2 linked regions of the Homo sapiens genome follow. The protein of the gene in region 1 purifies or fractionates together with the protein of each later gene. This does not show direct contact. Each region holds a gene or a part of one and is shown on either strand. Other genes may lie near its edges.

Evidence for each region.
Region 2: the proteins of CNIH4 (region 1) and TACR3 purify together in Homo sapiens (co-immunoprecipitation; one large-scale study listed by IntAct). This does not show direct contact.

The regions. Positions count from the first base shown.
Region 1 is NC_000001.11:224,355,358-224,359,825, reverse strand, and holds the start of CNIH4 (protein cornichon homolog 4), read right to left. Parts: upstream 2,948-4,468; 5' UTR 2,902-2,947; coding exon 2,833-2,901; exon of another isoform or gene 2,783-2,832; intron 2,781-2,782; exon of another isoform or gene 2,758-2,780; intron 1-2,757. UniProt on the Homo sapiens protein: Involved in G protein-coupled receptors (GPCRs) trafficking from the endoplasmic reticulum to the cell surface; it promotes the exit of GPCRs from the early secretory pathway, likely through interaction with the COPII machinery.
Region 2 is NC_000004.12:103,594,428-103,598,251, forward strand, and holds part of TACR3 (neuromedin-K receptor), read right to left. Parts: intron 1-3,824. UniProt on the Homo sapiens protein: This is a receptor for the tachykinin neuropeptide neuromedin-K (neurokinin B). It is associated with G proteins that activate a phosphatidylinositol-calcium second messenger system.

The sequences.
Region 1 (4,468 bases):
TAGCAGTACTGCTAAGGTGAGGCAGCAAAATGCCTAGAGCCCAGGATTCACGTTACACTGAGCTATAATCACACCAGTGCGCTCCAGTCTGAGCAGCAGATTTGGTAGGCACTTGTAGTCTCAGTTACTTGAGAGGCTGAGGCAGGAGAATCGCTTGAACCCAGGAGATGGAGGCAGCAGTAAGCCAAGATTGCGCCACTGCACTCCAGCCTGGGTGACAGTGAGACTCTGTCTCAAAAATAAACATGAAAATAAAATAAAGTCAAACTCATCACTTTCTCCACAGATTGATCTTCCTCCAATTTGTTTTATTTCTGTTACTGACACAAGTATCACTTGCCCAGGATCAAAATATGGAAAGCTATCTCTGCCTTCTGTTTCATATATCATAATCACTCATTTGTAGGTCCTGGCAATCATTTCTTCTAAATACTACTCACATATTCCCTCCTTTCACCTGCCCACAACCAGCACTCTATTTGAAATCCAGACGACCCTATCCAGTTGGTTTATCTTCCAATCTTTCTTGTTTCCAACCCACTCGGCAGATTCATCTTCCTAATAAACTACCGAAAATAAAAATTTTCAATGGCTCTCTATTGCCTGCAGGATAAAAGTGAAAGACTTCCCTCCCACCCTTAACATTCAAGCCCTCCAAAATCTGATGTAATCCTGCCTTTCCAACTTAGCCTTCTACTGACGCCAAAATCAACCATGTGCTCCAGATGGTCTATTCGTTAACCATAGCCCAGAAATCCACGAACATACCTGTCTCTGCACCTTCGCTCTTGCCAGTGTCTGATTTGGAATATTCACCTCTTCCCCTTCCTGTAGATTTTGTCCACAGTTCAAAGTCCAAGAAAACTCTTATATCCTATATTAAGTCTACCGTGACCATTTTCCACCTCCTATCCCTAAGTTAGTGCAACTATTCTAAAATACAGAATATGCTGAATTTCATCAAAACACCCCCCGAATGTATTTTAATGTAATGTCTAAGTCAAACATTCCACCTACCATTTCTCTAAATGCATAAATTGGTGTAAACCAGGGCTATTTAAAATTATCAAGCCTGGTTTTCCAAACTGCAAAAAGAAAAAACCCAGCTACATTTCTGAGCATAAGCTCTAGTTCAGGGGTGTCCAATCTTTTGGCTTCCCTGGGCCACACTGGAAGAAGAATTGCCTTGGGCCACACATAAAATACACTAATACTAATGATAGCTGATGAACTTAAAAAAAAATCACCAAAAAAGAATCATAATGTTTTAAGAAAGTTTACAAATTTGTGTTGGGCCACATTCAAAGCTGTCCTGGACCACATGCAGCCCGTGGGCCGTGGGTTGGACAAGCTTGCTCTAGTTCCTTATATCACAAGAGGGGCATAGAGGTCATCAAAACTTAGGCAAGTGATGCTGCCCTTTCAATCAGCTCCCCAAACCTACTAAAACTCAGAAATCTTGTCGTTAGATATCATCAAAGTAAAAACTGCTGCTCAATTGGGGAGGGTGGGGACACGAAGGCAGAGCAATATTTACTGAACATTAGCTATGGGGCAGGCACTGTGCTAGGGTGCTCAGCACCATTCTCATTGTGCATATCTAGGAAATAAACATTTCCTATTTTAAAGATCAGAAAACTGAGGCTTAGGGAAATAATGTGCAAGCAAAGAGCTAGCTGACCAGGAAATCTGATTCCAAATTTTGTCCCTTTCCACTACAACAGGATGCCAGTCCACAATGAAAAATGAAGCTGCACTGAACATATACTCTGTACGACTATCCTAAAGCCCGCATGCTCTAGCAAACAAATGGTTTAATCCGATCAGAAACAGGTACATGTGATTTCCAAGAAAGGAAGCTGAAATGCGGAGTTCCTCATACGTTTTTTCTTATATTTAATTACTTAAACCTGGATGGTGCAATACAACATTGGGCAACAACTAAGCCTAGATGCTTTGTCAAGAGATGGGAAGAGTTGTAGCCGACATGGCTACTGCAGTGCTAAATTCAACCACCATTTATTGCTCTGGAAAACAGTTTGAATACTGCAACTTAAGTTTTAACATGGATCGATAGAAAAATTTAAAAGCTGAGAAACGATTGGGAACTACAGCAGATGTAGTTATTGAATTTACAGATCTGCAACCACCGGGGACAACCAAAATAATCACTTTGTAGACAGTTGTTAAAACAACTCCTTTCCAACACTCACTACAAAACGGCACAGTGAAGGAAGCAACTTCGCTCCTTTGGCGAATGAGTCAACTCCTGGATGTGAAAGGTCCCTGCAAGTACTAACACCCGCCAGAACAAAGGGGCGGGTGCCGGGGGTGTTGCGTGGGGAACAGGAGGAGGCAAATGGCCCGCACTTATCCCGGCACCCGACTGTCGCAAGCGACCGCCCTTGGGACCCCCAATATCCGACGAAGAGCACGGCGCAGGGCCTCTCCCAGAAAAACAGCGACGCTTCTCTCCCGAGGGCGGCCGTGGCTCAGGCAGGGCTGGTCCGGGCGCCGCGGGGACGAGCGGAGAGCAGGCGGGCAGGCCGAGACGGGGCGCGCCCGGAGAGGCCCACTCGGACCCGAGTGAGGGGCGGCCGGCAACCCAGGCAGGGCAAGTGCGTGCAGGGCAGCAGGGCCCGTCGGGTAGGGCAGCCAGCCTCTCCTACCCGCTCCGGGGCCCGCGCCACCGCCCCGGCCAGGCCAGCTCCCAGGGAGCCCACGCCCGCCGCCGGGCGCCTCCCTAGTCCCACACACCTGCCCGGGTGCCCAACTGGCCCACCCTCAGCCGTGTCCCCCGGCAAGGCGTTCGCCTGCCTCAGGCAAGGATACGAAGTAGACCGAGAGGAAGATGAGCGCGCAACAATCGAGGAGAGAGAAGACGAACACCACCGCCTCCATCCTCCTCCTCCGTCGCCGCCGCTCCTTCCGTCAAACCCGCTCGGATGCCCCGACCCACCCCTGATAGGCCCTTGCCGGGGCTGGCTGAGGCGTGTGGTCCTCGAATCCTGGTGTGGCATGCCGGGAGTTGTAGTCCATATTTTAAAAAACTCTACGGCCCTAATTCTGACGCATGCTGGGAATTGTAGTTCATTAGTACAAGTCCATATCAAAGAGGTGGGCAGGGCCTCTTTCATAAATCCGATTATTTCCAGAAATGGAATTAATCAACAAGTATTTACTCAACGCTTTTCTTTTAAAGAGCTGGGGTCTTGCTCTGTCGTCCAGGCTGGAGTGCAGTGGCGTGATAGAGCTCACTATGACCTCGAATTCCTGGGCTCAAGCAATCCTTCCACCTCAGCCTCCCGACATGCCCAGCTAATTTTATTTTATTATTTCTCATTTTATTTTATTTTTTGAGACAGGGTCTCACTCTGTCGCCCAGGCTGGAGTGCAGTGGCATGGTCACAGCTCACTGCAGCCTCTACCTCCTGGCCTCAGGTGATCCTCCCACCTCCGCCTCCTGAGTACCTGGGATTACAGGAATGTACCACCACGCCTGGCTAATTTTTTGTATTTTTAATAGAGATGGGGTTTTTGCCATGTTGCCCAGGCTGGTCTCGAATTCCTCGGCTCAAGCGATCTGCCTGCCTCAGTCTCCCACAGTGCTGGAATTACAGGCCTGAGCCACTGCACCAGTCTCTACTGAACGCTTTTAATCCGGATATCCAGTAGGATGTATTTCCCATGTGTGAAATTTTCTTTAGAGTTGGCTCTAGAACCATTGCATTCCCTGACTTAGGATTTGTAAGGGGTTTTCATCTCAAAGCACAAATCTAACTTAATGCTCCTGGCTTGACTTTTGCGATTTGCCCTTCCCTTCCTGATTTCAATTTCTCCAGAGATTTCACAGTCCTTTGTTTATCCTCTCCTACAGCAATGTTTCTCTCCTCTCTAGATTTTAAGATCTTTAAGAAGTGAATACGATGTCTTACTCATCCATTCATTCATTTAACAAATACAGTTGTATTTGCAGGGGCTACTTTCCAAGACCCCCAAGTGGATGCCTGACACGATGGATAGTACCAAACCTTATGTGTACTATGTTTTTTCCTATATATACATACCTATGATAAAGCTTAATTTATAGATCAGGCACAGTAGGAGATTAACAAGTAATAATAAGATAGAACAATTATACTGTAATAAAAGTTATGTAAATGTGGTCTTTCTGTCTCAAAATATCTTATTGTACTGACCCTTCTTTTTGAGATGATGTATGATGATAAAATGCCTATGTGATAAGATGAAGAGACAGATGCAGCCTCTCCAGTGATTTTTATATTTTTCAGTCCAAATCTATTCTTACATTCATGTAACTATCCATTACTTGCAGTAAGTGGCTTGGTATCACTCGTTTTAGGGAATCCCTCACTGAAGTCTTTGTATAGGCTCAATACTTTCTGGCTCAACACGTTGCCATCAATTGGCACATGTTTTCTGTTCATGTCTTCCACCCACAAATGTA
Region 2 (3,824 bases), on another chromosome or scaffold:
CGGCCTCCCAAAATTCTGGGATTACAGGTGTGAGACACTGCACCCGGCCTAATATAATTATTTTCATGGGGCACATGAAAGCATTAGATTTCATTCTAAGCAAATGTTAAGAGCAAGTAAAATATCTTTGAGAATGTTAACATATATTGTATTTGAATCTTTTATACAGACTGACTACAAACTCCCTATGCACAAAATTGTTTTCCGACAATTGCTGAAAACCTACTAAGGCTATCAGTCCTTTTAGATAAATTTCAATTTTCATAGTGCAAAAAGTTCAGAAAAACATGCAAAAATTAAAATGCATGTGGAAAATGGAACAGAGACTTCAGATAGCTTTTAACTCACATACAGAGGGCCTTTAGAACTTCTTGCGAAAGATTTATAAACATATTTTAAAAATTTTAAGAAAAGCTTAAAATACTCTACAGAAATGTTTATAAGTGAAACAGCTGCTATAATATATTTTCTGTACTTATTTCTATATAATACTGTTACCTTGGCACTCTGCTTACAAAATCTTGTAGTGTTATTTCAGATGATGAACTCTCTGGACTCTAGTTTTGATGTGAATGCAAACGTAGGCTCTTGGGTGGGAGAAATTGTCTTGCTTTGTGAAATGCTGAAATCACAAAACTGAAATCACCCTCCTGATAAAATGCCAAAGAAAAGAGCTCTTTGAAGCATGAAGCTTGAGCAATGATAGATGTGCAGGTGCTATGAGCAGTTACCACTGTATTGCATGGCTGAACAATGGTACTAGTGCAGGCAGGCTATGAACTGTTAAACAGAAAAAAGAATCAGGTGGTAAACTTTAAGAAATTCTTGAGATTTTTAGGCAAGATGACAATCTGGGACAGAGAAGGTTCAAATCTCTCATCGTGTCTTAATAATGTTATTAAGTGGGTAGCCACCCATTACCCTTGGAAACTTACAAGCAGGATAAAGGAGGAAAGTGGGGACATGTAATGTAGCCCTTACAAAGTTACATTGCCTATTTTTAGCAGTTAAGAATCTAACTACGTAGGCAGGATGGAACTGCATGTCCTCATATATTAGTGAGAATGAACTTTGGATACCATTCCTTCATGTATCAAAGGGGAAAGATCTTAGATTTTTGTATACCGTACAGATTAGAACTGAAATGCCTACAGTTGTTCTTATTCATTACATTAAATTAGTGTAGGATGGATGATTTTGAGGTTTGGGTTGTAAAAGCAAAAATTAGTTTAGGAAATTAACTAAAATGCTGACAACTATTTAGAAAACTCTAGGGGTCATATTCTTTTTTTTTTAATTTTGGCAATATTATCTTCTAATTATTTTATTTTTATTATTATACTTTAAGTTTTAGGGTACATGTGCACAATGTGCAGGTTAGTTACATATGTATACATGTGCCATGCTGGTGTGCTGCACCCACTAACTCATCATCTAGCATTAGGTATATCTCCCAATGCTATCCCTCCCCCCTCCCCCCACCCCACAACAGTCCCCAGAGTGTGATGTTCCCCTTCCTGTGTCCATATGTTCTCATTGTTCAATACCCACCTATGAGTGAGAATATGTGGTGTTTGGTTTTTTGTTCTTGTGATAGTTTACTGAGAATGATGATTTCCAATTTCATCCATGTCCCTACAAAGGACATGAACTCATCCTTTTTTATGGCTGCATAGTATTCCATGGTGTATATGTGTCACGTTTTCTTAATCCAGTCTATCATTGTTGGACATTTGGGGTGGTTCCAAGTCTTTGCTATTGTGAATAGTGCCGCAATAAACATACGTGTGCATGTGTCTTTATAGCAGCATAATTTATAATCCTTTGGGTATATACCCAGTAATGGGATGGCTGGGTCAAATGGTATTTCTAGTTCTACATCCCTGAGGAATCGCCACACTGACTTCCACAATGGTTGAACTAGTTTACAGTCCCACCAACAGTGTAAAAGTGTTCCTATTTCTCCACATCCTCTCCAGCACCTGTTGTTTCCTGACTTTTTAAAGATTGCCATTCTAACTGGTGTGAGACGATATCTCATTGTGGTTTTGGTTTGCATTTGTCTGTTGGTACAGGATTGATTCTTTCTAAATGCTTGGAATAAAAATGGTCAGCTAGGTGTGACAAAAAACAAAACAAAACAAAACTGCTTGTTTTGATTAGAATCCTTTTTTTAAAATTTTATTATTATTATACTTTAAGTTTTAGGGTACATGTGCACAATGTGCAGGTTTGTTACATATGGATACATGTCCCATGTTGGTCTGCTGCACCCATTAACTCGTCATTTACATTAGGTATATCTCCTAATGCTATCCCTCCCCCGTCCCCCTACCCCACAAGAGTCCCCAGTGTGTGATGTTCCCCTTCCTGTGTCCATGTGTTCTCATTGTTCAATTCCCACCTGTGAGTGAGAACATGCAGTTTGGTTTTTTGTCCTTGCGATAGTTTGCTGAGAATGATGGTTTCCAGCTTCATCCATGTCCCTACAAAGGACACGAACTCATCATTTTTTATGGCTGCATAGTATTCCATGGTGTATATGTGCCACATTTTCTTAATCCAGTCTATCATTGTTGGACATTTGGGTTGGTTCCAAGTCTTTGCTATTGTGAATAGTGCCGCAATAAACACATGTGTGCATGCGTCTTTATAGCAGCATAATTTATAATCCTTTGGGTATATACCCAGTAATGGGAAGGCTGGGTCAAATGGTATTTCTAGTTCTAGTTCCCTGAGGAATTGCCACACTGACTTCCACAATGGTTGAACTAGTTTACAGTCCCACCAACAGTGTAAAAGTGTTCCTATTTCTCCACATCCTCTCCAGCACCTGTTGTTTCCTGACTTTTTAAAGATTGCCATTCTAACTGGTGTGAGATGATATCTCATTGTGGTTTTGGTTTGCATTTCTCTGTTGGTACAAGATTGATTCTTTCTAAATGCTTGGAATAAAAATGGTCAGCTTGGTGTGACAAAAAACAAAACACAACAAAACTGCTTGTTTTGATTAGAATCCTTTTTTTTAAATTTTATTATTATTATACTTTAAGTTTTAGGGTACAAGTGCACAACGTGCAGGTTTGTTACATATGTATACATGTGCCATGTTGGTCTGCTGCACCCATTAACTCGTCATTTACATTAGGTACATCTCCTAATGCTATCCCTCCCCCGTCCCCCCACCCCACAAGAGTCCCCAGTGTGTGATGTTCCCCTTCCTGTGTCCATGTGTTCTCATTGTTCAATTCCCACCTGTGAGTGAGAACATGCAGTTTGGTTTTTTGTCCTTGTAATAGTTTGCTGAGAATGATGGTTTCCAGTTTCATCCATGTCCCTACAAAGGACATGAACTCATCATAATTTATGGCTGCATAGTATTCCATGGTGTATATGTGCCACATTTTCTTAATTCAGTCTATTGTTTTTGGACATTTAAGTTGGTTCCAAGTCTTTGCTATTGTGAATAGTGCCGCTATAAACATACGTGTGCATGTGTCTTTATAACAGCATGATTTATAATCCTTTGGGGATATACCCAGTAATGGGATGGCTAGGTCAAATGGTATTTCTAGTTCTAGATCCCTGAGGAATCGCCACACCGACTTCCACAGTGGTTGAACTAGTTTACAGTCCCACCAACAGTGTAAAAGTGTTCCTATTTCTCCACATCCTCTCCAGCACCTGTTGTTTCCTGACTTTTTAATGATCACCATTCTAACTGGTGTGAGATGGTATCTCATTGTGGTTTTGATTTGCATTTCTCTGATGGCCAGTGATGGTGAGCATTTTTTCATGTGTTTTTCGGCTGCATAAATGTCTTC